Regions from separate parts of the Homo sapiens genome. Here regions 1, 3, 4, 5 and 6 are each reported to be linked to region 2. The links are microRNA targets in miRTarBase. Many come from high-throughput screens and were not tested one by one. Region 2 holds a microRNA gene; each other region holds the end of a gene's coding sequence. Distances are between the middles of the regions.

Region 1 (5,074 bases), not on the chromosome of region 2:
TTCATTTTTAAGGGATTACATTGAAATTAACAATAAATTTGATGTGCTAACATCACTGTGTTCTGATAAGGAGGGCTGGAACAAGTTATTTAACCTCTATAAATCTCTCTTACCTCTCTATAGATAGGAATACTTATGGTACCTTCCTTACAGGGTTACTGTGAACATTAAATGAGATAATATACATAAAAGCAGTATTAGAACATAAATGCATAATAAATACCAAGTTTATTATTCAGTAGAAAGAGAAATTAATTGGCATTTTTTTCTTTAAGTAGAAAGTATTCTGGAATGCCATTTTTCCGCCTAATCATAGTTCTTAGTGTTTCTTCATTACTTTTACTTTTACAGTTTTATCAAGATCACACATAACACATCTGCATAATTACAATTTGAGTCTCATAAACAAAATTATGCCTGAGAGAGTATTTATCTCTATGTTTATATGTAGCTTGTAATGGTAGTTTCTTCTATGTTTTTAATACATAAAGGGATTCCTTGTATTTAAAAGTCTCAAATTCCAAAGATGGAATGTCAAAGAATAATTTCAGTCTAAATTCATTTGTATGTCTTTAGGATATTGTTTTATTTTGTAGCAAATGACTACATATGATTATTTTCTACACTAGAAGGCAAAAATCACCAGGTCTTGCCTATTTTGTTAATATGAATTAAATTATGTCTTTGTAAAATGTCTTTTCTTTCATTCAGATCCCCTTGGAAAGGACTTCCAGAACTGACCAATGAGAATGCCCAGTACTGTCCTTTCAGCTGTGAAACACAAGCCTGGTCAATTGCTACTATTCTTGAGACACTTTATGATTTATAGTTTATTACAGATATTAAGTATGCAATTACTTGTATTATAGGATGCAAGGTCATCATATGTAAATGCCTTATATGCACAGGCTCAAGTTGTTTTAAAAATCTCATTTATTATAATATTGATGCTCAATTAGGTAAGATTGTAAAAGCATTGATTTTTTTTAATGTACAGAGGTAGATTTCAATTTGAATCAGAAAGAAATATCATTACCAATGAAATGTGTTTGAGTTCAGTAAGAATTATTCAAATGCCTAGAAATCCATAGTTTGGAAAAGAAAAATCATGTCATCTTCTATTTGTACAGAAATGAAAATAAAATATGAAAATAATGAAAGAAATGAAAAGATAGCTTTTAATTGTGGTATATATAATCTTCAGTAACAATACATACTGAATACGCTGTGGTTCATTAATATTAACACCACGTACTATAGTATTCTTAATACAGTGCTCACTGCATTTAATAAATATTTAATAAATGATGAATGATAGAAGTTTCCATCTACAATATATGTTCCTAAATGGAGCACAGATGTTCAAACTATGCTTTCATTTTTTCACTGATATATTAATTTTTGTGTAATGAATGCCAACAGTATATTTTATATGATTTACTTATGTGAGGAAACATGCAAAGCATTAGGAAATTTATTTCCTAAAAACAGTTTTGTAAAATTAGTATTGAGTTCTATTGAGTATTATAAGATAGCTTACATTTTCAAAATGGAAATTGTCGGTCATATTTCTAGAACTTTAAAGAAAAAAGAATGTTATATTAGTTTTCTAAAACTCAACTATCTTTAGTCATGTTCAAAAATCTATTGCTAGATCATAGTAGATACTGGTTTTCTATTAACTCAAAACCTACATTGACAAGTTTAACATTGAGAAGAATCTTAACAAAAATATGGATATGAATTCAGTAGATATCTTAAATTCAATAAAATCACTGGAAGTTTTTCATGATAACTTATTTTAAGATGCCTTAAAAATCTTAAAGTCACAAAAGGAAAAAGGTTTTTAACATTTACATGAGTTAACATTTTTTCATAGAACTTATTTCCTAGATAGAATTTTTTACTGTTTTTTACTGTTTTCTTAAGAAAACAGTTAAATCATTATGCATTCAGTTGGAAGAAAGTAGTGGCAAGAATTCTTTCATTGCTATATAATATTCAGTGGCTCATTTATACCTAATAAAATAATGGTATTTTAAAATAATGCTACTTTCAAAGTAGCATTTTTTTAGTTAGTTTACAGGTTACATACCCAAAACCTTAACTATGACTAAGAAATTAAAGAAGAAAACCAGCAAACTAAAACTTCTGGGCAGCAAAAATATATAAATGCTTCAGATGTCAAATACCCATGCTTGAAAGCTCGTGTAATTTACTTTAAGATTATCTGCCTGCTCTTCTTCAAAGCTGACCTTGCTTTAGAAATAGTTTTAACTAGCTTAGTTTTCTGGTTTCCAAAACTAAAATAGATTAAATCCTACAAATTTAAGGACAGTTGTGACAGTAATCTGACCACTATCTATAAATACATTGGACATTGGTTTCCAAATCTCCCTTTCTTCTTCAGTTCCTTCCTTGTTCAATATATACCCTTCTCTAAACTGTGCGGGTAAAAGGAATGACTGTCCTTGAGAGAACCATTAGTTTATCAAAGGTTTATGTAGTTTTGTTGCTGTACCCTAACTTTGATATTCAGGGAGGTAGGAAAGGTAACAGAAAACCAGCATATTTAATCAAAGCAAGAAGTAATCGCTGACAGTTAAATGTGACCAAAAAAATTAAAAGTTCACAATTTTTTTAATGTAGCCATTTGGGGTTATCTCTAGTAAGGCAGATACCCACGTTGGTAAATTTTTAGGATATTGTGTTGCACTAGAAAACTAAGTGGTTCATATTTCTAATGAGGAAGATTAATGAAAGAACATTGTTATATTCTGCGTGGTATATTTTAAAGTTTAAGAAGGCATGTTAAACATTATTTCCTCTATGGTAGTTAAAATACAGAATTAGATTTTTAACAGGTGTCATTTGACTAAACGTTTCGGTAGAATGCTTCATACTTGAGTGATGCTGGATAAGGTATTGTATTTCAACAATGGACTATGCCTTGGTTTTTCACTAATCAAAATCAAAATTACTCTTTAACATGATAAATGAATTTACCAGTTTAGTATGCTGTGGTATTTTAATAAGTTTTCAAAGATAATTGGGAAAACATGAGACTGGTCATATTGATGAATATTGTAACATGTGAATTGTGATCCATTTCTGATATGTCTTGAACTACTGTGTCTAGTGGGCAAATGTCATTGTTACCTCTGTGTGTTAAGAAAATAAAAATATTTTCTAAAGGTCTGTATTTTGCTTTCATTCATAGTCATTGCACCCAGCTAATTTTTTATTTTTTACTTATTTTTTATTTTGTAGAGACAGGATTCTACACTATGTTCCCTAGGTTGGTCTCAGCCTCCTGGCCTCAAGTGATCCTCCTGCCTCAGCCTCCTAGAGGCAATTAATTTGTCAGTGCTGACCAGAGTCATTTATTCAGTGCTTGCCTACTTTAGGTGCTTACCTTTTTGCAGGAGGCAGAGAGGAGGAAGAATTTTAGACTGTTTTGATTATTTATTTCATTAGGCATGTTGAAATTAGGAGCAAAATCAACTTCCAATGTATAAATCTGTTAGAAACTATACACTTCTGGTGACAATGGGCCTCCTGGAAAAATAAAAATAATTTTTTTAAAATAAATAAAAATAAGCTGCACACTTTCCTGGTACTTCTTGAAACCTTTTACTCAAGTGTGAATTTTTAATTTACCTTTGATCAACTTACAGTAAACACTACAGGCCAGAAGACATATATACGTTGCCTCCTAAAGTAGCCAAAATTTTTTTACTTTTCATTGTATTACTGAATAATATACATATTTATAGAAAAGCATCTAATGACCAAAGTTGATCAGTTTGGTCTTTGCCTTAGTTTCTGTTGGTTTCTTTTTACTGCAGATATGCATATCTTCATCTTCAGATAAAAGATATTAACCTAAAAATCCAAACCTGTAACTACCACAGCAAACTTGCCAAAATTACTTACATAGAACCTCAATGTGCCAATATAATAAACTCATGGAATTTGCTTAGTAGTTGTTGGTTCCCTCCCCCAACCCCCCCAATTTGTATGAGCCTTGAATTATAGAGTAGTGCTAATACTTTGTCATTCTGGCTGTAGTTATTTTGGTTAGAGCAGGGGTTTTGTTTTTGTTTTTTTAAAGAGTCTTGCTTTGCTGCCCAAGCCTGATGACAGACAGCTCATTACAGCCTCAACCTCCTGGGCTCAAACTACCCTCCCACCTCAGCATCCCAAGTAGCTAGGATGACAGGCGTACAACTACTGCACCCACCTAACTTTTGCATTTCTTTTTTTGTAGAGATGGGGGTCCACACTGTGTTGTCTAGGCTGGTCTCAACCTCCTGGGCTCAAACTACCCTCCCACCTCAGCATCCCAAGTAGCTAGGATGACAGGCGTACAACTACTGCACCCACCTAACTTTTGCAATTCTTTTTTTGTAGAGATGGGGGTCCACACTGTGTTGTCTAGGCTTGGTCTCAACCTCATGGGCTCAAGCAATCCTCCCACCTCAGCCTCCCAAAGTGCTGATTATATAGGCGTGACCATTTCTGGCCAGCTTTTTTCTTTAATCAGATCTTTCAGCACTTGCCTCCACGTTTGTAATCTCTACTGTCTCCTCAAAATTTACATCAGTCTCAATAATAACCATTGTTTCTATTTCCAGTTTTATTTTTTTTATAAGTGCATGTGGTATGAGATGAGACATTACTTAGGCTTTTTTTTCCAAATTGTTAAATCCCAAACTTATAAGTTGAATATGATTTATGGGAAGTCCTTTTTTAATCTTGCATTATTCTTTACTAGTAGGGTCTACTTCTAGAATATACTGTTTTCTGTGCCCATTCACCTATTTCACTATTACAGTTTTTGTTTTAATATTTGTTAGAGCATTTTGTCACCACGTTTTTCTCTCATCGGTTCCCTCGTCTTCTTTTTCAGAATCTTATTTATTCCCACCTATTCTTTGTATGTATTTTTCCAAATCCAAAAAGTATTCTCAGCATTTTTACTAAACAAGCCCTCATACTATTAATTTGATAACAACAGACATATTGACATTATTTAATCTTAAAACATAAGCTATTTATTTAAAAATTTTTA
Region 2 (5,074 bases):
GAGTCTGAGGCCTGACAGCCCCAAGAGGGTTAGAGTCCAGGGCCCTACCATCCAGCCCATGTATCCTGAACACCTACTATGCTGGTGGGTGGGGGAAGCAGCCAGGGAGGATGAGTAAGTCATGGACCTTGCCCTCAAGGAGTCTGAAACTAGCACAGGATTAGATAAGCACACAGGGCTCCTTAACTCTGTAGGGAATGAGATAAGGGTGGCGGGAGAGGCCCACGAAGCCGGGGTGTGGGCAGAGAGGGGAGCAGCGCCTGCAGAGTCATGGGATGGTCTGCAGGGAGGGGTTGCTGAGCTGGGCCACGGCAGGGGCCAATCGGGGCCCAGGGATTCAGAGCAGCCAGGACAGTGTGAGCAGAGCTGCCTGTGGGAAGGGGAGAGAGACAGTGTCTTAGGGGCCAGATGTTTGTTGGCTGCCTACAGTCCCCAGGAGAAGGTCCAACTTGCTCTGTGACTTCAGCAAATGTGCACCCTCTCTGAGCCTGTGTCCTCCTGTCCCAAACAGGTTCATGATGGATGCCAGGAGGACCAGGTCCTGGATGTGCGTGCCCAGCAGACAGAAAGGGCTCAATAGCCAACGCCTGTTATTAAGCAATTTGACATTTATTCCTAGGTCTCTATTTCCCATTTTACAAATTTTATTTTGTAGTACCAGAAACCTTTTTATTCAAATGAAAAATTCTGACAGGGCACAGTGGCTCATGCCTGTAATCCCAGCAGTTTGGGGGGCTGAGGCAGGACTGCTTGAGGCCAGGAATTTGAGACCAGCCTGGGCAACATGGTGAAACCCCATCTCTACGAAAAATACAAAAATTAACCAGGCATGGTGGCACGTGCCTGTAGTCACAGCTATTTGGGAGGCTGAGATGGGAGGACTGTGTGAGCCCTGGCAGGTGGAGGCTGCAGCAAGCTGTGATTGTACCACTGCGCTCCAGCCTGGGTGACAAAGCGAGCAAGACCCTGTCTCAAAAAAAAAAAAAAAAAAAAAGGAAAATTTCCTCAGAACCCCGTTGTATAAGAAACAGGTGGGGCTGGGCGCGGTGGCTCACACCTATAATCCCGGCACTCTGGGAGGCCGAGGTGGGCAGATTATCTGAGGTCAGGAGTTCGAGACCAGCCTGGCCAACATGGTGAAACCCAGTCTCTACTAAAAACACAAAAATTAGCTGGGCATGGTGGTGCATGCCTGTAATCTCAGCTATTTGGGAGGCTGAGGCAGGAGAATCGCTTGAACCCAGGAGGCAGAGGTTGCAGTGAGCTGAGATCATGCCAGGAGGGGAGGCTTCCTCCTGGGAGGAAGCCTGTTGCATTCCAGCCTGGGCAACAGAGCAAGACTCTGTCTCAAAACAAACAAACAAACACCACAAAGAAATAGGTGGAAATGAGGCTGTTGTGGGAGGCGGGACAGGGGTGGGGTCAGCTGTCCTGTCCTGGGTTGGCTGCTCTTCCTCTACCAGCAGCTGGGGTCCTGGGCCCTCTTAGGAATCCTAGGGGCTGGAGAAGCTGCTCCACCAACCACAGGGCTGTGCTCCAGGGAGATGAGACTGGCAAAGGAGGGGAGAGTAGGAAGCAGATGGGGAGGCTGGCTCAGGGCCCCATCCTGGGTGGGGGGGCTCCAGCACAAACACTGGGCCTAGAGCACTCAGCCCCCCTTGGCCACACTGCATGTCGGTGGGTGCTTCCTCAGGGTGCAAGACAGAGGCTCAGGATTGGTTCAGCAAACATTTATTGGGCACGCGCCTGGGCTGGGAACTGAGCTCACAGATGGGGAGAGGAGCGAGACATAAGCAGAAACCAGCACCGGGGCTCCGAGAGGGCAGTGCTCTGCGGCAGCACTGTGTGGGGGTGCCCAGGTGGGGACTTAGAAGCTTCAATAAGGCCTTCTGGAGGCAGCAAATGCTTGGACAGAGCTTGAAAGGGTTAGTAAGAGTGAGCCTGGCAAATAAGCTAGGAAGAGTATTGCAGCCCAAGGGAACAGCATGGGCAAAGCATAGAGGTGCCACAGGGCAGGCAGGGCAGGGGCAGGACTGAAGCTGTTCAGGCTCATTCACGGGGAATGAGACAGAGGGAGGTGGGACCATGAGTGCTGCACTGGGGTCGCAGGATCTCTGCTGACTGCTGGACACCCCCGGCCCTCCCCTATCCCTGCAGGTCCTGGTGGCTGGCATTGAGGCGAACATACCTGTGACCTATGGAATTGGCAGCCAGAGGGGAGACGAGAGCACTGGCTGTCAATTCATAGGTCAGAGCCCTGTGCACTCGGTCTCGGCAGCCCACCGACAGCCCTCCACTACCCGCCACCATCTGGCCTGGGAGCGTCGCCACGGTAGTCCTGGCTGGTCTGCTGGCCAGCACCTGCCTCTCCTTCTTCGTGGGTACTGGCCCTCGCCCCAGATAACAGCAGCCCCACTGGAACCAGTGGGCACTTCCACATGGAGTTGCTGTTACAGGGGGCGGGAACCAATTGGAGACCGGGGCCCTGCCTGGCGTCCGCCTTCGGCAGGGCTCTGGAGAGTGTCCCATGCCCACTCACCTGGGCTCCCCAGTCTTCGTGGCCCCAGGTCCATGGTCTTTTCACCGAGGCTTCTTATCATCCGGGGCCCACACCTGGCGCCCCGTGTGCTGCCAGCACTCCTTCCTGGGCAAAGTCCAGGCTCAACCCCAAATCGGCCTCATAAAGCCGGGAGCGGCTCGGATTTACAACTCCTGGGCAGCCTTTGCCCGCTCTGATGACCCCACGCCCTCTGTCCCCAAGTTATTTTGTTTCCTTGTTTCTTTCCCAACCAGAGCTGGGCCTCAGTTTCAGGTTTGGCCACTGTCACCTCTGCCCTTTGCCCACCCTCCCTGCTGCAGCCATGGGGCAGAGAGACAGCAAGGGACAGCTGGCACTTGTCAGTCCCCAGGGACCTCCCAGTGCCTGATTTCATGAGGATGGCCTCGTATGGGAAGCTGAAGATGAGACTAAGAAGAAGTGTGGGGGGCTGTGTGGGGGAGGGCACAGAAAGAGGGATAGTGAGGCAGAGGGGCTGAGAGAGGAAGAGAAGAGTAAGGCCGAGGATGGCGGTGCACACCTGGCATCCCAGCACTTTGGGAGACCAAGGTGGGAGGATCTCTTGAGCCCAGGAGTGCAAGACCAGCCTGGGCAACACAGTGAGACCCCATCTCTACAAAAAATAAAAAATTAGCCTGGTGTGGTGATGCATGCCTGTGGTCCCAGCTACTCAAGAGGCTGAGGCGGGGGATCACTTGAGCCTGGGAGGTCGAGGCTCCAGTGAGCTGGGATTGTGCCACTGCACTCCAGCCTCAGTGACAAAGAAAGACCCTGTCTCAAATAAAAATAAGAGGAGCAGGTAGAGAACTAGAAAGGAACAGAGAAAACAAACAGGGATAGTGGATGACGAGGTGTAGGAAGGGGGACGACAGGGAACTGGAAAAGATGTAGATACACAAACCTGCCGCAGAACATGAGGAACAGGCTGTGAGCAGTGGCTCGCCTGGAAGGACGCTTAGGACCTCAGTGGCCTGGAAGACAGCAGGGGCCTGGGAGCTGGGTGACCTTGAGCAAGTAGCGTAACCTCTCTGAACCACTGTCCATATGTCAATCAGGACTTACGAGGCCACCCTGCACGCTGGGCTGGCCTGGTGGGAAGCATCCGCCCTGGGACCCTTGGGTCTCTCTCCGCTGTGGGGAGAGGAAGCAGCTGCTGGCCAGGGTCCCTGAGTGAGCCCAGGGCTCTGTGAGGCAGAGCTTCCTCTTGCAAAGCGTGTTCTCGTCCCTCCCAGACAGGTTCCGGTGACAGGTGCCAGTCCTGCAGAGACCCAGCAGGCATTTTGGGAGACTCCAAAGCTTCTGGAGAGAAAGGGGAGCTTTTAGAGTAGACTTGGGCCCTGCCCCCTTTGCCAGTGGTGCATACAGGCCTAGAGAGACAGAGGGGGCCGCCCAAGGTCACAGAGCAGGGCCCCAGGGCCTGTGCTGCCCCAACAACCTTCCCGAAGTGGCGTCCCCCCTTCTCAGGATGCAGTCAGGGTGGGATGGGGGATCCCTGGGCTGGAATCCTTCTGCCTGGGGGGACAGACCTGCGAAGGAAGACACCGTAGCTGGTGGCTGGCCCTCCACTCAGCCTGGCGGCCCTTCCCACAGAGGCCTGGGCGAGACCAGCCTCCTGCAGCGTGGTGTCCAAGTGCCCTGGCCTGGCAGAGACAGCGCCCGATCAGGAATCCTGGCTCCACAGCTCTGAGCGCTGATGCTAAGGCCCCCTTATCCCACAGTGGAAACCAAGGCACAGAGAGGAAGGGGCTCGTCCCGGCCACCCCATGGCTGTCCAGGTCCCTTTCTTCCTCAGGATTGGCCACCCTTCAGAGAGGTGCCTGGGTTCAGGAGCCTCCTAGGACAGGGAGGGCGGCAGGGGTCCTACCACTCAGGAAGCCTCTTACCTGAGTGCCGGGCTGGCCTTCGGGGCACAAGGAGGAAGTGGGGACACCCTGGGCCCAGGGCCTTTTGAGCCGTTGACCCAGCCCCTGGTGGTGGTTAATGATTATCCCACCACCGTCAATACTGATCACAAGTGCGGTTCGAAGGGCAGGAAGCCCTGGACTGTGCCCGGGCAGGGTGGGGCGGGTCCAGGAAGCATCAGGCTGGGCCCCATCTGCCTCTCCGGGTGGCATCAGCACCGAGTCTCCACAGCCCTGTCTCCTCCAGGGCCTCGCCCTCCTGGTCTCTTACCAGCCTGCTGCCCCAGCTGTCCGTGGGCAGCCAGGACCCCAGGGTCCCTCGGGACAAAGCTTCTGCTCTGTTCCCAGTACCCAGATCTCCCCCACTCAGAAGGGGCCACAGAGCAGGGCTGGGGGACCTTTGCTAACCCCAGAGGCCTGCGGAACCTAGCAAGGTGAGGGTTCCCTGATTCCCAACCCGAGCCTTGGTTTCCCCATGGACCCACCCACCTCTGTGCAGCGCCACTGGGAAGCAGGGCAGGGAGGAGCGCGATGGGAGCAGCTCACAAGAAACAAGATGTGTGGGGGGCAATGGGCGCTCCCTGGTCCTGTGTAAAGCTTTGTGCAGTGAGGGTTG
Region 3 (5,074 bases), not on the chromosome of region 2:
AGGCAGGGAGGCAAACCATTTCAGTGACCCAGACTATTTCATTGAAAAAGGAGAGCAAGAAACAGATTCCAGAGATGTTACAGCAAGGCAGTCATTGGACTTGCTGACTTACTGAATGTCAGATACTGAAACGAAAGGAGTTAGAGATGCTGCATTCACCTGCATTCCTTTTTAACCAAAGAAGAAAGAAAGAAATGGTTTTCATTGAAGCTTAAAATGTGTCTAAGACTTATTAAAGCTATTGGATCTAGTTCTAACTGCTTCCTATCACAGGGACTTTACTAGGGTAGAAGCAATGTCACCAGGATCAGTACTTGCATGGATGAGTAGAAGGACAGTCTTTCAGATTCTAATTGCATTCTTGTTCTTCTCAAGTCATGTAACACAGACTACATCCTGGATCCATCCCGTGATGAGTGTCCTGAATCTATCTCGCTCAGAGGAGAATGAAGAGGATTGCTCTAGAGAACTCCCCAACCAGAAAAGTTGATGGTTTTCCTTAGGAAGTGGAGCTACATGGATGATGTGAGCAGAGACGCATAACATCCAATTCTGAGATGAAACAGTCTAAAATAGGAGTAAAGCATGCACTACTTGTTGAAGTGTGAAATGGAGACTCTGGACTTTGGGTATTTTTGTAAAACTTTTGATATTTCTGTATACATTTAAAAAATCAATTGCCACTACAGTAGTTCCTTAAGAATAATCTAGTTATATTTTTTGAAATCACATATAATTAGACTTTATAATATATATACTTTTTCATATATAATTAGATCTTTCTTTGTAATTTCATATGTAGTTCTTCATAGGGTCTCAGATACAATGGTTTTTATAATTGACATATTGAAAAAGTATATGAACATAATGAAACACCTCATTTATTTGATAATTCACTAATGTTTTATATTCATATATTAGGAAAGTGAACTTAGCAAGCTTTTTGGAATTTAAGGATCACATTTAGACATCTCATGGGCTGATGAATACAGCTGGTATCTTTGTGGAGCTTTCTAATTTACAAAATGCTTTGTAGACCCCATTGTCTTTAAACCATACAACATGCCCGTGAAGCTGATCTGGTGGGTATGTTTATTCTTGGTTTTCAGTAGGGAAATAGCAGTTCAGAGAGAGGAAGCTCTCTGTCCCAGCACCGAGACTCACTCCTAAGTCTTCTGATTCCATGAGCAGTCCCCCTTCCCCCATACCCTGCTGTCTCCACGGAGGGAGGTCACAGCCCATCACGCAGGACACTGTGATTGTGTTGATGCAGCTGGCTCCACAGCTGTGCATTCCACAGAGATTCAGAAGGCACCTCTTCGGTCAAACATGGCCCCTCTATAACCCCACTATTCTTCTCCTATAAACCCTTCCCCCTTCTCTGCACCCAAGCCTTCGCCAAGTAGGCGCACTCTTTGTGATATTGTTTCAGCAGACTTCTTTCAGCAGCTCGTGTTTTTCTAAAGTGAAAGGCATGGTTTGTCCTGCTTAGGTTGCCCTTCCCAGAGGGATGGTTTGAGGGGAGCTGATGAGAAGAGAGGTATCTGTTAAAACATTACTGCTCTACTCGAAACAAGATGGAAGCCTAAAGCCCAAGTCGAGCAGCTCCCAGCACTGCTGTGCAGACCTAGAGGTCCTTAGAACATAGTCTAAGAACCATTCATTGTAGCCATTTTATAGTTGAGTAAACTGAGATCTTAAGTCTCCTAGTCTACTGAATTTCATATGGTGTATAATACAGATTTATATGGTAAAGATATACATATACATTGTGCTCAACTATACATTCCTGAATCCATTTAGGATTTGTGATTTATGTCTTGAGTAATAATATAAAGTCAACTCCAGACTGATAGGTAGTCATTAGCCATGAGAAATGTTTCAGGATGGCTAGGGAAGACTTGTGTTTTGCCTGACAGCCATTTGAATGTTAGGAAGCTTCGGGGAGACAAGTTTTGAGAGAAGCCCCAGAGGGAGCTATTTCCTTGCACCCCCCAGAGGTGAATGAGGTATTCTATAAGTTAGTGTCTATAATTGTGAAAGTACAAACTTCTTGTTTTTGTCAAATTAATGGTATGAAATTTCTCTCCCCCTGCTTGAAGAGTTTTCTAATTCGTTTCTAGTGAGCAAAACAAAGAAGGTGCTTGAGTCACTGAAATCAAAGTACTCAGGCACACAGCCCACTGACAAGAGACACCTCATCCATTAACTGCTGTTTTGTACCACTTGCCGCCCTGTTTCTGTCAAATACCTAGTGAAAAAGGCCTAAACAATTGTAATGATATTATTTATTGGGCATTTTGTGCCATACATGGTGATGAGCAGTTTGCATATATTTATTTATGATCTTCTTAAAACCATTCCATGAAATAGGAACTGTAATTATCCCCAATTCTAAAAGAAAAAACTTAGTTTTAGAGAGTTAGTAATCTTTGCCTAAGGGTCACAAAGCACCTATGTGTAGAAGCTAGGGTTCAAGGCAGATCTGTGATTCCAGAAGCTGTTCTCTAAACCACTATGGAGAACTGCTTAGATTCATTGTCTATGGGTACATTTTATAAAAAGGCAGATTCTAGTTCAGTGTCATAAGGAACTTTCTAGTAATTAGAGCTGATAAGAAAAGAATTCCCCAGGAGAAAATGGAAACACTATCCCAGCAATCTGAATTCCTTACTTGGGGAATGTTGCTGAGGAGGTTCAGTGTGTGAATGGACTGAACCAGTTGGCCACTCTCTCAGATTCCCTCTTCATAAAGCTTCCGTGACTTCTAAACCATCAGGTCGGTGCCATAAGAGATGCTCAAAAAAGCATGGTCAGGGCTTAGCAAGAATCCTTTTCCAGTGCAAATACGACCCTCATATTATGTTTTGGCGAGTAGCCAGTCTTTCTTTAACATCAATCAACCGTAGCAATGTGGTCATCACGAAGTCTTCATTGACTCACTGGCTTGGATTTTAGGGTTAGAAAATCTGAATGTTCTTATGTCCTTCCGTCTCACTTTACTAGAGTGCCCAAGTTGACTCATCCTTACTCACTCATTCCCTCAAAATATTTATTGAGCACCAACAATGTCACAAGCACTGTGCTAAACACTGTGGTGAAGTAGAACAATTGCTAATCATTTCCTGGGTTCCACTTACTCTTGATTTAAAAAAAAAAAAACAACAAAAGAGTTTGTGTGTGGCCAGGACTAAACAGCTGCTTCTTAATTTTTGAATTTTAAAACTAATCTATTTTATTTAAAAAAAATCAAGTACTTTGGAAGTGAATAAAGTAAGAGATAGCCTGTCTCACTTTCCAGAGGTAGCAGTCACTAATACTGTGGTGAGTGATTTTACTCAAAGGAAATCACACTATTAAGCAGCTTGGTTTTGACATGTTATGTTGTGGTCATCTTTTCATGTCAATACATAGATTAATCTTTTATTTCAAATGTCTACATAAAATATCACTACCCACATAACCTATAATTTGTGTGGCCAGCAATTTATTGAACACTAAAATGTTTTAAGTTTTCTTATTGCTAACAATGTCACAGTGAACATTTATATATTCATTAAATCCTTTTCCTCATGTATCTTTGCACTCTTGTGCTAGTATGTCTATAGTGTGAATACATTCATAAATTTCTTGATCAAAGCTAGGTCAAAGTTACATTCATTTTAATTTTGGTACATATCCATAAATTCTCCATAAAAGTAGGACCAACTTACATTACCACCAATAGTGTATGTGAGCCTTATTTTTATGTATGATAGGACTTTTTTTAGTCCAAATGTTCCTATAGATTTTCTGGGTTTTTTTTTTTTTTTTGTCCTTGGAAGAATAACCTTCCTTCCACCAAGTCCAAGAACCTGAGATTTTTAATCATTAGGTTTTAGATTTCCTTTAGCAGCAGAGACTGACTTGCTGTATAGAGGGAAGTCAAGTAGTGACTAACTCACTATATGTCAAACACATCATTACTCTTCTCTTTTCCTACTTTACATGTAATGGTTGCGAGGACCAACTTTCAAATGAGCTAACTTGGGTGAGACGTTCACTAAAGTACCAAGCACAATACAAATGCATCTTCGAGTTCTTTGGGCCTCACTTTCCCTATCTGAATAATAAGGATAGTAATCCCTTGCCTTTTCTCAAACCAGTTCAACTCAGCAAACACTTCCTGAGCACCTGCTACATGCCAGGCAAAATGTGAAATTTGCATGCTATGAGGCTAAATGGTACTGATTCTCAAAACAAGGAGCTCATAGTCTAAAACCATTTTTCTTTCTTTTTTTTCCCCCTAAACAACCTCTTAAAGGGGTAAGAAGTTAGGGGGTTGTTTATTAAGAACCCCTGAAGAGCAACCCTTTACCACTCTCTTAAATTTGAAAAATTCCAAAATAATATTAACACCTCTTGACTAGAAAAGGAAAAAAAAGGAACATGCCGTATGAAGAGCCTCTCCAATAATAAATGCAAAGCAGCTGTCAAAATATAGAGTCAAGTGATACTTTCATAAAGTGTTTGCACAATTAGAAAATGTTATCCTTTTTCTCGGGAGAAATGGGACATTTTTATTTTCTCTGCTAAGTGAAATGCAACTTTTTGAAGAATCAACACGCTTGACATTTTTACAATGTACATAAAGAACTGAACTATTATTAAAACAACTTACACACTCCATTGCTTATAACTTTTGAGAGAATGAAAAGAACCTTAAACAGAATGTGCCTGTGGAGCTTCGCTTTAGAAATGAAATACCCAAGGTGTTTTAACTACAACTGTCTACATGTAATAGTGTGTCTGCATAATGACTTTGTAAATATTAACTGCAATTCTGTATTTGCTTTCTTGATATGACTTTTAACATTTAAACTTATACTGTTTCTGTCTACTTTTTTCAAAAGTTCAATTTTTACTTTTGGGGGTTGGACTGTTCTGAGGGAAAGGGCGATCAGATCAATAGTTCTGTCCCCCATTCCATTCCCCCATCACCCAATTATTCTCTATATCACTCTACCCTGTTTATTTCTTTTTTTTTTTTTTTTTTTTTTTGAGACGGAGTCTCGCTCTGTCGCCCAGGCGGGAC
Region 4 (5,063 bases), not on the chromosome of region 2:
CAAGCCATTCCTGAGGAATCCGCCCCCATGATCCAAATACCTCCCACCAGGCTCCACCTCCAACACTGGGGATTATGTTTCAACATGAAATTTGGAGGTAAAAAACATCCAAACCATATCAGTAGTCAATCAGCTTTCCCATCATCTTGGATTCCCTTGCAAGAGACCTGTACCTGCCTTAACACACAGGAAGCATCATGACTGCCTGAAGGTATAAATATCTGTGAGGACAAGCAGAGACAAACTAGGGAGGTAGGACTACCATCCCCAGCCCTGGAAACTCTGCTCTGTAACTCAGCCAAAGGAGATGCCACATCAGAGTGGCTGTTCAGCAGCACCATGCTGTTATGTTCCACAGGTCCCTTGGGCACAAACCACTACCTGCCTTCCCACACTGCCAGAATAATCCTTTTGGGAATTCCCCCATTCAAGACAGGCAGCACTCTAATAATTTAGTAGAGCAGAGGAGAACCTGGGCTTAAGGAACCACAGAGACAAAAAGGAGGCATCAACCTAATGGTAAAGATTTGCTAAGAGCAAGGTGAAGCAGGAAGTGCTGGTGGAGAAGCTGCAGCAAGTTATCCAGAAGATCTAGAACAAGCTTGTCCAATTCGCAGGCCACAGGCTGCATATGGCCCAGGATGGCTTTGAATGCAGCTCAATAAAAATTTGTAAACTTTCTTAAAACACAAAGAGTTTTTTTGCATTTTTTTTTTTTTGAGACGAGTCTCATTCTGTCACCCAGGTTGGAGTGCAGTGTCGCGATCTCGGCTCACTGCAAGCTCCGTCTCCTGCGTTCACACCATTCTCCTGCCTCAGCCTCCCAAGTAGCTGGGACTACAGGCACCCGCCACCACGCCCGGCTAATTTTTTATGTTTTTAGTAGAGATGGGGTTTCACCATGTTAGCAGGATGGTCTCGATCTCCTGACCTTGTGATCCACCCGCCTCGGCATCCCAAAGTGCTGGGATTAGAGGAGTGAGCTACCATGCCCGGCCAGGAATTTTTTTTTTTTTTTTTTTTTTAGCTCATCAGCTATCGTTAGTGTATTCTATGCGAGGTCCAAGACAATTATTGTTCTTCCAATGTGACCCAGGAAAGCCAAAAGATTGAACACCCCAATCTAGAACATAAGGGATGAAGGTGGCTACACTAAACAATAGATTTTTCCATGTAGATGAACAACCTTCTATTGGAAGATGATGCCACCTTGGATTTTCATAGCTAGAGGAAAGTCAATGCCTGGCTTCAAAGTTTCAAGGAAGAGAATAACTCTTGTTAGCAGCTAATGCAGCTGGTGACTTTAAGTTGAAGCCAATGCTTATTTACCATTCTGAAAATCCTAGGGCCCTGAAGAATTATGCTAAACCTACTCTGCCTGTGCTCTGCCTGTGGAACAACAAAGCCTGGATGACAGTACCACTGTTTAGAGCATAATTTACTGCATGATTTAAGCCCTCTGTTGAGATCCACTGCTTGGAAAAAAGATTCTTTCAAAATATTACTTATCATTGCCAATATACCTGGTCACTCAAGAGCTCTGATGGAGAGTTATGTTGTTTTCATGCCTGCTAACACAACATCCATTCTGTAGCCCATGAACCAAGCAGTCATTCTGACTTTCAAGTCTTATTGTTTCAGAAATACATTTCATAAGGCATTAGCAGGTAAGTGATTCTTCTGATGGATCTCAGCAAAACAAACGGAGAACTTTCTGGAAAGGATTTACCACTCTAGATGCCGTAAGAACATTCATGATTTAAGGGAGAAGGTCAAAATAGCAACTTTAACAGGAGTTTGGAAGGAATTGATTTCAACCTTCATGGATGACATTGAGGGGTTTACGACTTCAGTGGAAAAAGTAATGGCACATGTGGTAGAAATAGCAAGAGAACAAGAATTAGAAATGGAGCCTAAAAATGTGTCTGAATGGCTGCAATCTTATAAAACTTGGATGACTGTAGAGCTGCTTCTCGTGGATGAGGAATAAAATTGGTTTTTTGAAATGGAACCTATTCCTGGTGAAGATACTGTGCACATTGTTGAAATGACAACAAAGGACTTAGAAGAGTATATCAACTTAGTTGATAAAGCAATAGCAGGACTTGAGAGGATTGACTCCAATTTTGAAAGAAGTTCTATTGTGAGTAAAATGCTATCAAACTGCATCACATGCTACAGAGAAATCTTTTGTGAAAAGTCTATCAATGAAGCAAAGTTCATTGCTGTCCTATTTTAAGAAATTGCCACAGCCCTGTCAGCATTCAACAACCACCACCCTGATAAGTCAGCAGCCATCAACACCTAGATGAGACTCTCCACCTGCATAGAGGTTACAACTTGGCTAAAGCTTCAGATTATTGTTAGCACTTAGCAATAGTATTTTAAAATAAAGGTATACATACATTGTTTTTTTTTAGACTACAACAGTGTAAACAATTTTATAAGCACTGGGAAACCAAAACGTTTCTGTGACCCACTTTATTGTGATAGTCACTTTACTGTGGTATTCACTTCATTGTGTGGTGGTCTGGAATTGAACCTGCAGCATCTCTGAGATATGCCTGTACCAGCAGTGCGAAGTGCATTTTCTCCACATTGTTGTCAACACGTGGAATAATCATTTTCACTGTAGTCATTCTAGTGGCTGTGTAGTAGTATCTCATTGTGGTTTTAATTTGCTCTTCACTAGTGTCTAATGAAGTTGAGCATCTTTTTGTACAATTACTTGCCAATCATATAACTTCCTTGGTAAAGTGACTGTTCAAATATTTTGCTCATTTTTAAATTGGATTTTTCTCCTTACTGTTGAGTTGTAAGGGATTTTTATATATTCTAAATATAAATCTTGGTCAAATATATAATTTGCACTTTAGAAAGTAAAATGCAACTGTTTTAGATAATTATGCTTTGTTAATATAATGCATTATCTGTATTTTAAATTTTTCTTATTAAGGGGAAGCATTATCTTCATAATCCTCAGCTACCAAGTTTTCCCACACCTAATAAGATAGCCAGCTGGCATATGAAAAATACGTAAGGAGAATAAAAGTAGAAAACATATTGATTTTCTCAACTCCTTCTAATACCTCCTGATTTTAGGAGTCTCTTGGCAAACTATTAATAAATAGTAGGAGATAAGACACTAGATAGTATATGTGATCATTAGTCTTCCTCCTTTTTTCTTTTAAGCAAACTTAATAAATAAGCAGTCAGTAAGAAGTAACATTATTAATAAAACTTCCTGTACTTTTAAAAAAATTAGATTTCTTTTATCTCTAAGACTAAGACCCTGTTGTTTACTTGACTGTTTTCCTTATCAGACTAAAGGAAAACATCAGTGCCTAGTGTATATTTCTATTCTTATTTCCTTCATTCTCTCCATTTCCTTTAGTCCTTATTCTTGGTCTTCTCCTTCAATCCTCTCTTCTACCCTACCCAGCATCTGACAAGTATAATGTGCTTAATTTGGTGATTCCAAATAAGTTTTGGCTACAGACTTTTTGGTGATCCCACAGATTGCCTATCATGCTTTTTACTTCAAAGACAACAAAATGAAAGTAATAATACAATTCTTCCCAGAACTTACAGGAAGAAGAGCAGAGTTTTTAATGAGTGAAAAAGTGAAACCATTTTCTATAGTATCCAAATAAATTAGTACTCTCTGCCAGAATAAAGCAAACACACTATTTTTTAAATAATATTCACTATTTAATACTTTAGTGTACCCAGCAATGCATGAACCACAGAGAGCAATCTTTTCCAAACAAGAGTGAATCTAGGTAAATTCTGTGGCTAAATAACCATCCCCCGAAAAAAAGTAATACATCTAGAGAAAACAGCATACAAAATCAAATCTACTCATTTTAAACCATGGAAAAAACCACATTTCCATGTATTTCTTTAAAATCTTTTAATATATATAAAAAATTTCACATACTTTTACGATTTTATGGGATATATGACTGCCCAGGGAATGCTACAATGTCAGACACAAATTTGAAAATAACTCTTCCATAAGTACTGCTAGAACTCTTCCATAAGTACTGCTAGATTATACAGGCAATCTTTACATAATATCATTAGGATACAGACAACCCTAGGGCTGTAAGTATTCCGTGAAGGTGAATATGAGACAATTAATTATACTCCCCATATTAGATTGGTTCTCATCAGACAACCTAACACTAAGCTTATTTGACACTGTTTTTTAAAAGATCCAGTATTAAAAGAATAACCTTCCTCTGGGTAGAAAAAATAGTAATTTTGACCTATTAAAGATGATATATATTGATAAAACACAGTCTTGTTCTCAAATATGCAATAAACCATTACTCTAATGTATGAACACTAATGAAATAATCACCTAGCTATTATAATTGTGTATATACTGAAATTTTCAGTTCAACTCTTTTCTTTTGATACAAGGAACTCTTTTCTTTTGATACAAGGGAAAATAAAATGATTGGCTTCAAATCCATTTTTAGTAATGTAAAATATGTGAGCTTTATTACATGTTAAAGAAAATAAAGATAATATGACCCCAAATTTATTTGTCAAAGTTACAATAAAATATTTTTAAACATATACAAAATTAGATATAACGGATGCCTTGTTCAATAAAGGTACATGATATATTATTTAAATACAGGATAAAACAAAGATACGTTTAATGATTTTCGTCTCATTTTAAAGTCACCTTATTGAACGATACATCATGAAATCTATAGTTGTACATCTAGGAAATTTACCAATGGAGCTCTCTTCTACTGGTGTGTATATTTTAATTTGTCTCATATGGGTGTCTCTTCCATTCTGGTGATTGGCTAGAACAGCAATCTGTATCATGAATGTACGAGTTGGCTTCTTATGATTGTCAGTTAAGGGAACATGAATCCAGCCACTTGGTTCCACCAACTCAAGTTGCTGCCAAGGGAAAAAAAATCAGATTATGCTTTTATTCAACAAATATAATTTATAACAATGAATGCATTCTATAATAAAATAACTTATAATTAACATTTTGCTCAACGAAAGAATGACAATATGATAATAATCACTAC
Region 5 (5,074 bases), not on the chromosome of region 2:
TAACATACATACAGGAGCCTTATTTCCTCTTTTGTAGGGCCAAACTCTACCTGATTTGGGGCCCTATCTTGTTTCTTCTCAAGAACCTTCTCTCTCCAGTTTAAGGCCAGCTTCTCCCTCAGTGGCTTCTGCGCCGAATTTTATTTAGTGCCTCTCATTCCCACACCACCCACCTCCTGCCCATGACTAGTTGATTGACTCCTTATCATTACTCTAAACTGTCCACATTTCTCCAGCCCCACTGCCACCTGGCTGCATAGAGCCACCTTCATTTCGACGCTGACACCTGGGATGGTCTCTTGGCTTCTCTGCTTATATCCTTAGCCTCTCTCCAATTCTCTTCTCACCAGCAGCCAAGTGACCTTGTCAAAACCTCACTAACTTGGATCATGTCACTGACCTGCTTTGGATTCTCCCCCAGTTTAAGTAAGCACCACGTGGTCTGTGAACCCTGTATGAGCTGGCTTATCACCAAGGCCAGCCTTCTCAAGCACCCTCCCCGGCCTCCTCAGACTTCAGCTTTCCCGCAGCAGGGCCTTTGCAGATGCTGTTGCTTCTGTGTGGTCCACGTTTTCTCAACCTTGGGACTACTGATGTTTTAGGCCAGTTGATTTTTGTAGGGGGTTGTCCTGTGAATATTGCATGTACAGCAGCAGCCTCTCTCTCCCCTGTCACTTTCCAATCAGTTTTAACAATCAAAAATATCCCCAGGCCTTGCCAAATGCCCCCCGCCCCCAAGGGTGACATCTCCCCTGGTTGAGAACAGCCAGCCTGGAGTGATCTTCCTCCCCTCTGCCTGTCAATCTCCATCCGGAAGCCACCTTCCCAGGGAGCACTTTCTTGACTCTCCAGGTTAGAGCAGGCCTCCCTCCTCAGCTACTATTCATGTGACTCTTTGATCATTTGTTTTCTCTCACTGGACTGTCCACTGCTGAGGGCAAGAGACCGTGTCCTCTTCCACCCACCTTAGTATTCAGACAGCCTAAGAAAGTATCTGGTACATAGCACTTAGTATGTGTTGAGTGAATGGGGAATAAAGGTATCTAAGGCCGGATCTGTGTACTCCCAACAGAGCCCCTCTTTCAAAAGTCCAAGCTATCACCTATGGAGGGTCTACTGGGCTCCCTACGTTATGGCTATGAGGGATCTTCTTATCACCACCGTACAGATGGGAAACTGGCGCCTGAGCAATGCTCAATGCCTTACGTATCATACTGCAGTGGGAGAGCCCCAGGTCCAAGTCTGGGTTTTCTCACCCCAAAGTCCAGGCTGGTTGGGTGTGAATATGGACATAGATGTCCAGTGCTTTGGTGGAGGGCTCAGTCTTCTGTTCCGATATTTTGTCAATAATTTGAAATAAAATGTGAAGAATGGCCTGGCACAGTGGCTCACGCCTGTAATCCCAGCACTGTGAGACCAGGGCAGGTGGGTCAGTTGAGCCCAGGAGTTCAAGACCAGCCTGGGCAATGTGGCAAAACCCTGTCTCTACAAAAAATATAAAAATTATCCAGGCATGGTGGTGCGTGCCTGTAGTCCCAGCTACTCAGCAGGCCGAGGTGGGAGAATCACTTGAACCCGGGAGGCAGAGGTTGCAGTGAGCCAAGATCACACCACTGCTCTCCAGCCTGGATGACAGAGTGAGACCCTGTCTCAAAAAAAAAAAAAAAAAAGAAAAAGAAAAAGAAAAAAAAAAGGAGAAAGAACATCTGTAAGCAATGTGACAGAATGAGAACCTCAAGGGGTCCTGTCAAGGCCTGTAGGCTACATCTGACAGGATGAACTCGGAGAGAAACAAATGTTAAGCCTGCATTTAAATTTGTAAAAATCCAAACAAGAACAGGGAAGAAGTGCTGCATTTTCACATGTGCTACATATGTTAAACCACCCAACAAACCAACACCCAGCTCCAAGCCTCTTTCCAGATTTGTTGATGTTCGCTATCAAGGAAGAGATGATGAGATTTCTCCAACTTGTGACTTCCCCATGTTTGTTTTGACACCTGCCTCCCAACTGTCATTAGCAATAAAAACATTAAAATAGTAAAAGACTCCAAATAAGAGAAGAACTGCGAGGCGGCCTTCCACTTCAGTCTTGTTTGAAAGGAAACCGAAGAAACAAAGAGGGTGGCTGCCTTAAGATGGAAAAAGAAGAAAAGGGAGCCAGTGTGTTATGCTTCCAAAATCTGCACAGATCAAAGACTTCCTGAAATATCAATCAAATTAATCACTGTGTTCCCTGGAAAGAAAACAGCTACGATGGAAATGCTGGAAGCTGAAGCAGTGAAGGCTGAGGGAATTTGTCGGTAGGCAGGGGTCCAGATTTGCACAACTTGATTTGGCACTAGTTTTAGAATCGGTAGGAAAAAAGAAGGATCCTGAAGGGGCTTTTGTAAGAAACATCATTTTGTGATTACTCTCAATAGACAAGTACTGTTTCAAAAAAAGAAGTTTGCTTTAAAAAAAAAATCAACAAAGCATATAATGCATCTATTGTATGACAAGTGAAGCACTATAGGAACATAAATAAGAGGAAGATGGTCTTAGCCACTAAAGAGAGCTATAAATTACTACTGTTGTTTTGGGACCATTTAAGAAATATTTGAAGGCTGGTTATGGTGGCTTATACCTGTAATCCCAGCACTTTGGGAAGACGAAGTGGGTGAATCACTTGAGGTCAGGAGTTCGAGACCAGCCTGACCAACGTGGTGAAACCCCGTCTCTACTAAAAATACAAAAATTAGCCGGGCATGTTGGTGCACGCCTGTAATCCCAGCTACTCGGGAGGCTGAGGCAGGAGGATCGCTTGAACCTGGGAGGCGGAGGTTGCAGTGAGCTGAGATGGTGCCACTGCACTCCAGCCTGGGAGACAGAGCAAGACTCCATCTCAAAAAAAAAAAAAGAAATATTTTAAACACAGCACTTTATTTCTTGATACATTTCAAACACCAGAAGTTACAATCACTGACTGAAACACTACACAGACCTGCCCCCAACACGTGAGTCCAGAGAATCACATTCCTCTCAGTGTGGATCTACTCGCTCTGTTCTCTGAACTTGGAAAACACTGTAGTGCCATTCTATGAAATGGTCCCCAAGTCACACAGAAGCCACATAAATGATGATTTGGTCAGTTTGATTTCATTTTAAGGTAAAGGAGGATACAAAGTTCACTACTTGAAAATAATTGATTAAGAAGGCAATATGACATTTTCATGCTAGTTTGTGTAGTAATTTTACTGCATAAGAAATTACAGAGATTGCATAAATCATTAGGTCAACAGCATACAGAGAAGAACAAAACAAAACATTGTTTGGATCAAATAAAAAACAGCAGGAACAACTCAATTCTTAAAAATACCACGAATTCCCCGAATGTGGCTCCATTTGATAGAAAATTTTGCATTTTCTGGATAATGTCTGTAGTTACATTAAGCAAAATGGAAAACGGCCTTCAGATAAACACACTAAAAAGCAGCTTACACAGATGTGTTGCCCTCTTCACCTTGGATGTAACAAAAATAAAGATGTGAGGCTGCCTGCTCTTGCCTAAAGCATGGCTTGAACTTTCAATTGATAGTAACCGCTTATGTAAAATATTACATTACATAATCTCCTGTGTATTGAAATTGCACAAGTCAGAGCATCCAAAAACTGCAAGAGTCAATTTCTTCCTATGGGGAAAAGCATATAGATATACTATGTTAAAACTTCCATTCCTCATTCGATTATTTGCCCTATTCAAAACATAAAAATACAAATAAATATTTCCTTACAAAGTTCACAGTATGTTGTTTTAAAAAAAAGAGATAAAAAAACTTAATTTGCTTTGTCATTAAATAAAAATGCTAATATATAGACATGTTCAATATTTATACAAATTGTAGGGGCCAGTGTATCCTTTCTTGGTCATAATTGAAGTTTAATAGTGCTAGTCCATACACGACAAGGCTCAGATCCCAAATGTAAGCTCAATTCTACTAAAAGTTGCTCAAGATAATTTTTTCTCTTTTTCTGTTTAATTAAAAAAGACATTTTTGGAATTTTAGAATTACATTTGAGTTGTCTGAAAAAATACAATTTCAATGAAAAATCATATCACGCATTCAAGAGTATATTGCTGGTGCTATAATCTTTTTGCATGTCTTTGTTTTCATAGAAAAAAATCAGTAAAATAACATGTCTAAGACTTTTAAATGGTTAAATGTAACCACATACTATTAATGATATGCCTCATGCACACACACACTCAAACTCAAAACATGAAGGAAACAGGATCAGACAGCTTTCTTTTGCATTAGTTCTAGCTTTCTTCTCAGCAGACCGTAATTCTCCTTAGTTCCTGATGCCGTGGGGTCAAGCTGCAAGGAGATTTCATAGTGTTTCTTGGCCAAGTCTAGATGTCCCCAACGATGATAAAGCACAGCTGAAATAGCAGGAGATAAATTTCACTGGGAATGCTTCTGAGTAACGTGCCGTATTCCTACCCTCTTGGACAAAGAAATATTACAGATCCTATGCAAACAGTTTTCAAAAGTCAATTGTATGAAACAATATTGTTTGTACTGAAAACTCTATTTATTGTAATCACACTCCCTGATGATTATCCATTTACTGCCAGTTACTCCTAGGGCTCTTCATAGCACTAGATAAGATACATCTGCCTATAGTAACATTATTACATAAAGAAGCAAAAAGAAGAGTACATGCAATGTCTTAGTGCTGCCATGAAATTTCCAGGAAGCAAGGCTGGGTATGGGAGGTGGGGGTGATGGATGCTAGGCACTGCCCAGAGCCCTGACTATGCAGAAGTTCAGCTGTTTATTTTAAATATTTCCTTACACCATTTGGGGAAGTAATAGCTTGTTTGGGTCCATTTAGAAAAAAGGCCTCTGATATCAAGAGCTGACCCTAAAATGATAGTTACAGTAAACCTAATCATTAGGATGATTAGCCTCTGATCATGACAGTGATTTTGTTAGTAAAATTAACTTTCTATATGGGCAGAAGAGCATCTGTGGACGCTTTTTGGCTTTTGTGAAGAGAAGCTTCAGAGTTGGTAGAGAACAGCTTTGGTG
Region 6 (5,074 bases), 700 kb from region 2:
CATGACGCCTACAGTAGCCCAGCGTAGGTCTCCCTGGACCACATTTATCCTCAAGGGCCTGTGTCCTTATCCCCCCTTCACCCCCAACTCTCCCCTGCCACAGCCAGCCCTCTGTTCCTCTCACACCCCAAGCTCATTCCTACCTTCACTGGCCTCTTACTCCCCAGCTGAAATATCACCTCCTTAGCAGAGCTTTCCCAGTGAGATAACCCCCCCGCTCCCCGCAGAGCTCTCCCATCACCCAGGGTGTTTCCTTCATGGAACTCATGACAATGTGAGGTTGCCATGTTTCTTTGCTAAGAGGTTTCTTGTGTAAACACCAGGAAGGAAAGGACCTGTGCCTGTCCTCTTCCCTAAGCACTTGAATGAATGAATGAATGAATGAATGTGGTATGGGTGCCTGAGTGAGCAGGACCTTGAATAAGTGTGAGGTCCTCTCTAGGCTTCAGCTTCCTCCGCCTCCTCCCCTCACCGCAGCCGCCTTCCTCCACCCATCCCCACCATCCCAGCTGCTGTGAAATGGGCAAATGTCTTGCCTCCAGGACCTGGGAAGGGTGATGCAGCTCACCTCCCTCCTGTTCACACCCCAGCCACCCCAGCCATCCCAGCCGGGTCCCAGCCACCCACACAGCACCTCCTCCTGGCCCCGCCCTGCCCAGCCCCTCCCAGGTGCCTGAGGTGGAGCCGCCAGTTCCCACAGCACCCCAGCGGCCTGCCATGGGGGGTCTAAGGCCCTGGTCCCGATACGGGCTCCTGGTTGTGGCCCACTTGCTGGCCCTGGGGCTTGGGGCTGTGGTGTTCCAGGCCCTGGAGGGGCCTCCTGCATGCAGGCTTCAGGCTGAGCTCAGGGCAGAGCTGGCAGCCTTCCAGGCAGAGCATAGGGCCTGCCTGCCACCCGGAGCTCTGGAAGAGCTGCTGGGCACTGCCCTGGCCACCCAGGCCCATGGGGTCTCCACCCTGGGCAACAGCTCAGAGGGCAGGACCTGGGACCTTCCCTCAGCCCTGCTCTTCGCTGCCAGCATCCTCACCACCACAGGTAAGAGAGCCAGGCAGCCAAGTCGGGGGGTGCGGCTCCAAGAGGCCATGGCTCCCTGGGGGCTTTGGGGTTCATGCAGCCCTTCCTTCAGCCCCAAAGAGCCAGATGGAGCCCAGGCCCTGTGAGGCCTGACATCACAGCTGGGGCTCCCCACCAACACACCCCAACTGGTGCCTCCACTTCAACTGCCAGGAAGGGTGTGGCCTCCCCAGTCCCACCCCAGGCACCCTTTGAGACCCAGGAGAGCTGCCCAGATGCCACAGCCTGTGGCCAGATAGGGGATACAATACAGTGGGATGGATTCTTGGATGGAAGCAAATAGAATGAACCTGGGAAGGACAGATCAGGACCATGGCCTCGGGTGGGGGAGTGAGGGAAGATAGGGGAGGAAGTCGGCATGAGATGCTTGTGGATCAGGAGGGCACAGACAGGGATGAGGGAGTCCTGCAGAGAAATCGCGTGGGCACAGGCCCAGGGAAAAGCAGCAATGAGACCCACAGCCCTGGGTTTTCGTATTTTTTGCCCCACAAAGTGTCTCAGTATTTTTTGAATTGGAATTTGTATTTCCAACTTTTTTTTTTTTTGAAACGGTGTCTGACCCTGTCACCCAGGCTGGGGTGCGGTGGTGCGATCTTGGCTCACTGCAACCTCCACCTCCCGGGTTCTAGCAATTCTCCTGCCTCAGCCTCCTGAGTAGCTGGGACTACAGGCATGCACCACCATGCCCGGCTAATTTTTGTGTTTTTAGTAGAGACGGGGTTTTGCCATGTTGGCCAGGCTGTTCTCAAACTCCTGACCTCAAGTGATCCACCTGCCTCAGCCTCCCAAAGTGTTGGGATTACAGGTGTGAGCCACTGTGCCCAGCTCATATTTCCAACTTCTTTTGGAAAATCAGGAAACCCACTCACACTGAGCCAGAATCCCTGCAAGGCAACATCCTGACTGGAGCAGAATGGGGCCTGCCCTTTGGATACAGCTCACACTTTCCAGTGTACCCCTGTCCCCACCACTCCTGTTTGTCTCCCATCTGGCTCCGGTAGGCATGTGCGTTTGCAGCTCTGTATTAGCTGATCCTGTTCTCCCAGCACACCCCGCACTCCCACCCCTCCCCGCCTGGCACATGCCCTCTCTCGCCCATGCTGCCTCTTTGCAGCCCTTCATGATTTGCCTGCCCGACTCCCCCACCAGAAGGGGCAGGGCCTGGGCTGATTCAGATCCCAGTACAAAGCCTGGCACACAGGACATGACACACATTTGGGGAAAGAGTGGATGATATTCCACCAGCTGTGGAATCGGGAGTATCTGTTAAGGGCAGCGCAGTTCTCAGAATTGTCCCAGCTACAAAAGGCCTGAGGAACTGTCTTCTTTCATCCTTTCATTTTCCAAAAAAGAAAAGAATGGCCTAGAGAGGGTAAGGGATCCCCTGACGAAGAGGAGCAGAGCCAGCTAGAACCTGGGCCTGGCCAGTTCAAGGCCACCAGAGGGCAGCCTTCTGCGGAAGGCAGTATTGGGGTAGGCAGGGACCCCAGCAGACATGGCACTCAGAGCTCTCACTGTCCACTGACTCTCTCTTCTCCAGGTTATGGCCACATGGCCCCACTATCGCCAGGCGGAAAGGCCTTCTGCATGGTCTATGCAGCCCTGGGGCTGCCAGCCTCCTTAGCTCTCGTGGCCACCCTGCGCCATTGCCTGCTGCCTGTGCTCAGCCGCCCACGTGCCTGGGTAGCGGTCCACTGGCAGCTGTCACCGGCCAGGGCTGCGCTGCTGCAGGCAGTTGCACTGGGACTGCTGGTGGCCAGCAGCTTTGTGCTGCTGCCAGCGCTGGTGCTGTGGGGCCTTCAGGGCGACTGCAGCCTGCTGGGGGCCGTCTACTTCTGCTTCAGCTCGCTCAGCACCATTGGCCTGGAGGACTTGCTGCCCGGCCGCGGCCGCAGCCTGCACCCCGTGATTTACCACCTGGGCCAGCTCGCACTTCTTGGTAAGTCCAGCCACCTAACAGCGTGTGGGGGAAGGGGGAAGAGGAGCCTGGACTAGGACTCCCATAAATCACTGGGGGGCTGGGCCTTGCAGGTGGAGGGACCTCACTCCAGGGCACGGCGTGGGAGGGGTAGTCGAAGAGCTCTGGTGGCAGCGTTGAGAAGGGGGTGAGTGGTGCCAGTTGCCAGGGCAAGTCACTGCGCTGGGAGGTGGGCGGGGAGCATCACCAGAACCCAGGCGCTGCCCCAGCACCTTCTCCTCCCCAGGTTACTTGCTTCTAGGACTCTTGGCCATGCTGCTGGCAGTGGAGACCTTCTCTGAGCTGCCGCAGGTCCGTGCCATGGGGAAGTTCTTCAGACCCAGTGGTCCTGTGACTGCTGAGGACCAAGGTGGCATCCTAGGGCAGGATGAACTGGCTCTGAGCACCCTGCCGCCCGCGGCCCCAGCTTCAGGACAAGCCCCTGCTTGCTGAAGCGTCAGGTGACCGAGTTCAGCTCCGTAAGGTGGCGGCACCTGAGGAGGAAGCAGCCAGGAGTGGCTGGGGAAGAATCTGGAGATGGAGCCGCGGTGAGGGTGGGCGGGAGGCCTCAGAGGATACTGTTAATCATAAAATGAGCAACGACTTCGGCTATTTTCAACTATTTCGAATGGGACTTCCCTGAGCCACCGGCCACCATCCCGGGAAGGCCGAGGTCCAGCCTCCGCTGGCCCTGGGAACCTCGAAACCGCACCTTCCGGCTTAGGATGGCAGAGCCGCCCGCCTCAGCCTCGGCGCACTCCCCTCCGCCTATTGAGAGCCCAGGTGGAGCGGAGAAAAGGCCGGCGCTGGGGTAGTCTCGTCCAACTTTATTGCTCTGGAGAACAGGAGGGCAAGCCAGCGCGGGGCGGTAGTGCCCAGGCATCCCTCTCCCCGAGGCCGCCGGCCCGGCCGTGCCGTCGGGGAGGACCCCGCACCCGCCGCGAGCGCGCACACACCCTCGGTGACAAATAAATACGGCGGCCGCCCCGCCCGTGGGGTCGGGGATCCGCCCTGCCCTGTACGGGGAAGGGCGCCGGCGGCCCCTAGCGGACACGCGCGCGGCCTCCGGGACGGCCGGGTCGTCCGCAGCGCAGGCCCGGGGCGGCGGCGGACGCCGGGGACGCGAGAAGTTATGGGCCACCCGGGCCGGCGGCCTCAGCTCAGCACGCAGCGCTCCCGCCGGCTCAACTGCCGGCTCAGCTTGCGGCGCCGCTGTTCCAGGCCGCGCTCCAGGCGCTCGTCCTCCTCCAGGGCGCTGGGGAGAACGGGTTCGAGTCAGCGCTCCGTTGGGCGGGGTCCACACGCAGCCCTCTGCGGGAGCAAGTCCCGGACCCTCCCAACTCCCAGCGCCGCCCAGCGCCACTCACATCCGCTCCTTGTGGTCCAGGTCCCGGACTAGCTCATCGCGCTGGTTCACCAGCGACACCAGCTCCTCCAGTAGGAGCTGCTCTCGGTGCTGCTGAGCGGACGTTTTCTGCCAGTCTGAGGGTCGAAGCGGCTAAGCGTCAGGAGGCGCGGGCCCAGGGCTGTGCCGCCTCCACCCTGGCTCTGTCTTGCCTCCCGGCCCCTGAGCCCATGTCCCACCTTCGATGGCCAGCATGGCCCGCAGCTCGCGGCTCAGCAGCTCGAACCTTCGCTCCAAGTCCTGCTCCTCCATGCTGGAAGGTGGCGGGGGGTGGGTGGCGGGGGGGTGGCAGTTCAGGAAAAGGGGCGTAGGGAGAGAGTGCCCAGGGCTCTGGCCACTCCCTGACCCCATCCCACCTCCCCAGCAGTTCCCGAGGGCAGGGCTGACCGCAGAGCTATCCTCTAGTCTCCAGACCACATTATCGCTTTTCTTCTGTTTTCTCCAATTGCTGGGTGTTTGTGTTGCTCCTCCCACACACCCCCCAGAAGGACCCCCGAAGGATTATTTGGATGAACAGTACTCATAAACAGGAAGCACTGGCTACAGTTATTCTGAAAAATCCCAAACGCAAAAGGGAGGCAAAGCTGTCTCCACCCTGCAGGATGACAAAGGCAATGGCCGCAGAGTGGCTTCGGAC

The links. The annotated mature microRNA hsa-miR-192-5p reads CUGACCUAUGAAUUGACAGCC and lies in region 2 at 2,233-2,253, opposite strand. An mRNA with a match to its seed (bases 2 to 7 or 8) in the 3' UTR can be bound and repressed. Matches are read on the target gene's strand: a 7mer-m8 pairs with bases 2 to 8, a 7mer-A1 pairs with bases 2 to 7 and ends in A, and an 8mer does both.
Region 1: the mRNA of AGL is a reported target of hsa-miR-192-5p. The part of its 3' UTR that is shown has no 7-base or 8-base seed match.
Region 3: the mRNA of STXBP4 is a reported target of hsa-miR-192-5p. Seed matches in the 3' UTR shown: 8mer at 3,642-3,649.
Region 4: miRTarBase lists ANAPC10 as a target of hsa-miR-192-5p. Seed matches in the 3' UTR shown: 8mer at 4,267-4,274.
Region 5: the mRNA of TMTC4 is a reported target of hsa-miR-192-5p. The part of its 3' UTR that is shown has no 7-base or 8-base seed match.
Region 6: the mRNA of EHBP1L1 is a reported target of hsa-miR-192-5p. The part of its 3' UTR that is shown has no 7-base or 8-base seed match.

Annotation. Positions count from the first base shown.
Region 1 is chr1:99,920,823-99,925,896 of GRCh38, forward strand. It overlaps AGL (amylo-alpha-1,6-glucosidase and 4-alpha-glucanotransferase), which reads left to right. Exons shown (of 34, transcript NM_000642.3): 34 at 712-3,198. The coding sequence ends at 829. It overlaps LOC124904230 (a long non-coding RNA gene), which reads right to left. Exons shown (of 7, transcript XR_007066251.1): 6 at 3,416-3,558. Among named protein-coding and RNA genes, the nearest start is that of SLC35A3, 47 kb to the right of the region's middle.
Region 2 is chr11:64,888,971-64,894,044 of GRCh38, forward strand. It overlaps MIR192 (microRNA 192), which reads right to left and starts at 2,276; the gene lies at 2,167-2,276. It overlaps MIR194-2HG (MIR194-2 host gene), which reads right to left and starts at 4,479. Exons shown (of 3, transcript NR_133640.1): 1 at 4,441-4,479; 2 at 3,620-3,856; 3 at 1-370. MIR194-2 (microRNA 194-2) reads right to left here and starts at 2,469; the gene lies at 2,385-2,469.
Region 3 is chr17:55,159,422-55,164,495 of GRCh38, forward strand. STXBP4 (syntaxin binding protein 4) reads left to right here. Exons shown (of 18, transcript NM_178509.6): 18 at 376-5,074. The coding sequence ends at 490. Among named protein-coding and RNA genes, the nearest start is that of HLF, 100 kb to the right of the region's middle.
Region 4 is chr4:144,990,678-144,995,740 of GRCh38, forward strand. ANAPC10 (anaphase promoting complex subunit 10) reads right to left here. Exons shown (of 5, transcript NM_001256706.2): 5 at 3,899-4,926. The coding sequence ends at 4,696. Among named protein-coding and RNA genes, the nearest start is that of ANAPC10, 100 kb to the right of the region's middle.
Region 5 is chr13:100,600,721-100,605,794 of GRCh38, forward strand. TMTC4 (transmembrane O-mannosyltransferase targeting cadherins 4) reads right to left here. Exons shown (of 19, transcript NM_032813.5): 19 at 2,905-4,422. The coding sequence ends at 4,274. Among named protein-coding and RNA genes, the nearest start is that of GGACT, 14 kb to the left of the region's middle.
Region 6 is chr11:65,591,416-65,596,489 of GRCh38, reverse strand. EHBP1L1 (EH domain binding protein 1 like 1) reads right to left here. Exons shown (of 19, transcript NM_001099409.3): 17 at 4,617-4,690; 18 at 4,400-4,514; 19 at 3,840-4,287. The coding sequence ends at 4,188. It overlaps KCNK7 (potassium two pore domain channel subfamily K member 7), which reads left to right and starts at 690. Exons shown (of 3, transcript NM_033347.2): 1 at 690-1,036; 2 at 2,616-3,014; 3 at 3,280-3,654. The coding sequence starts at 718. The coding sequence ends at 3,485.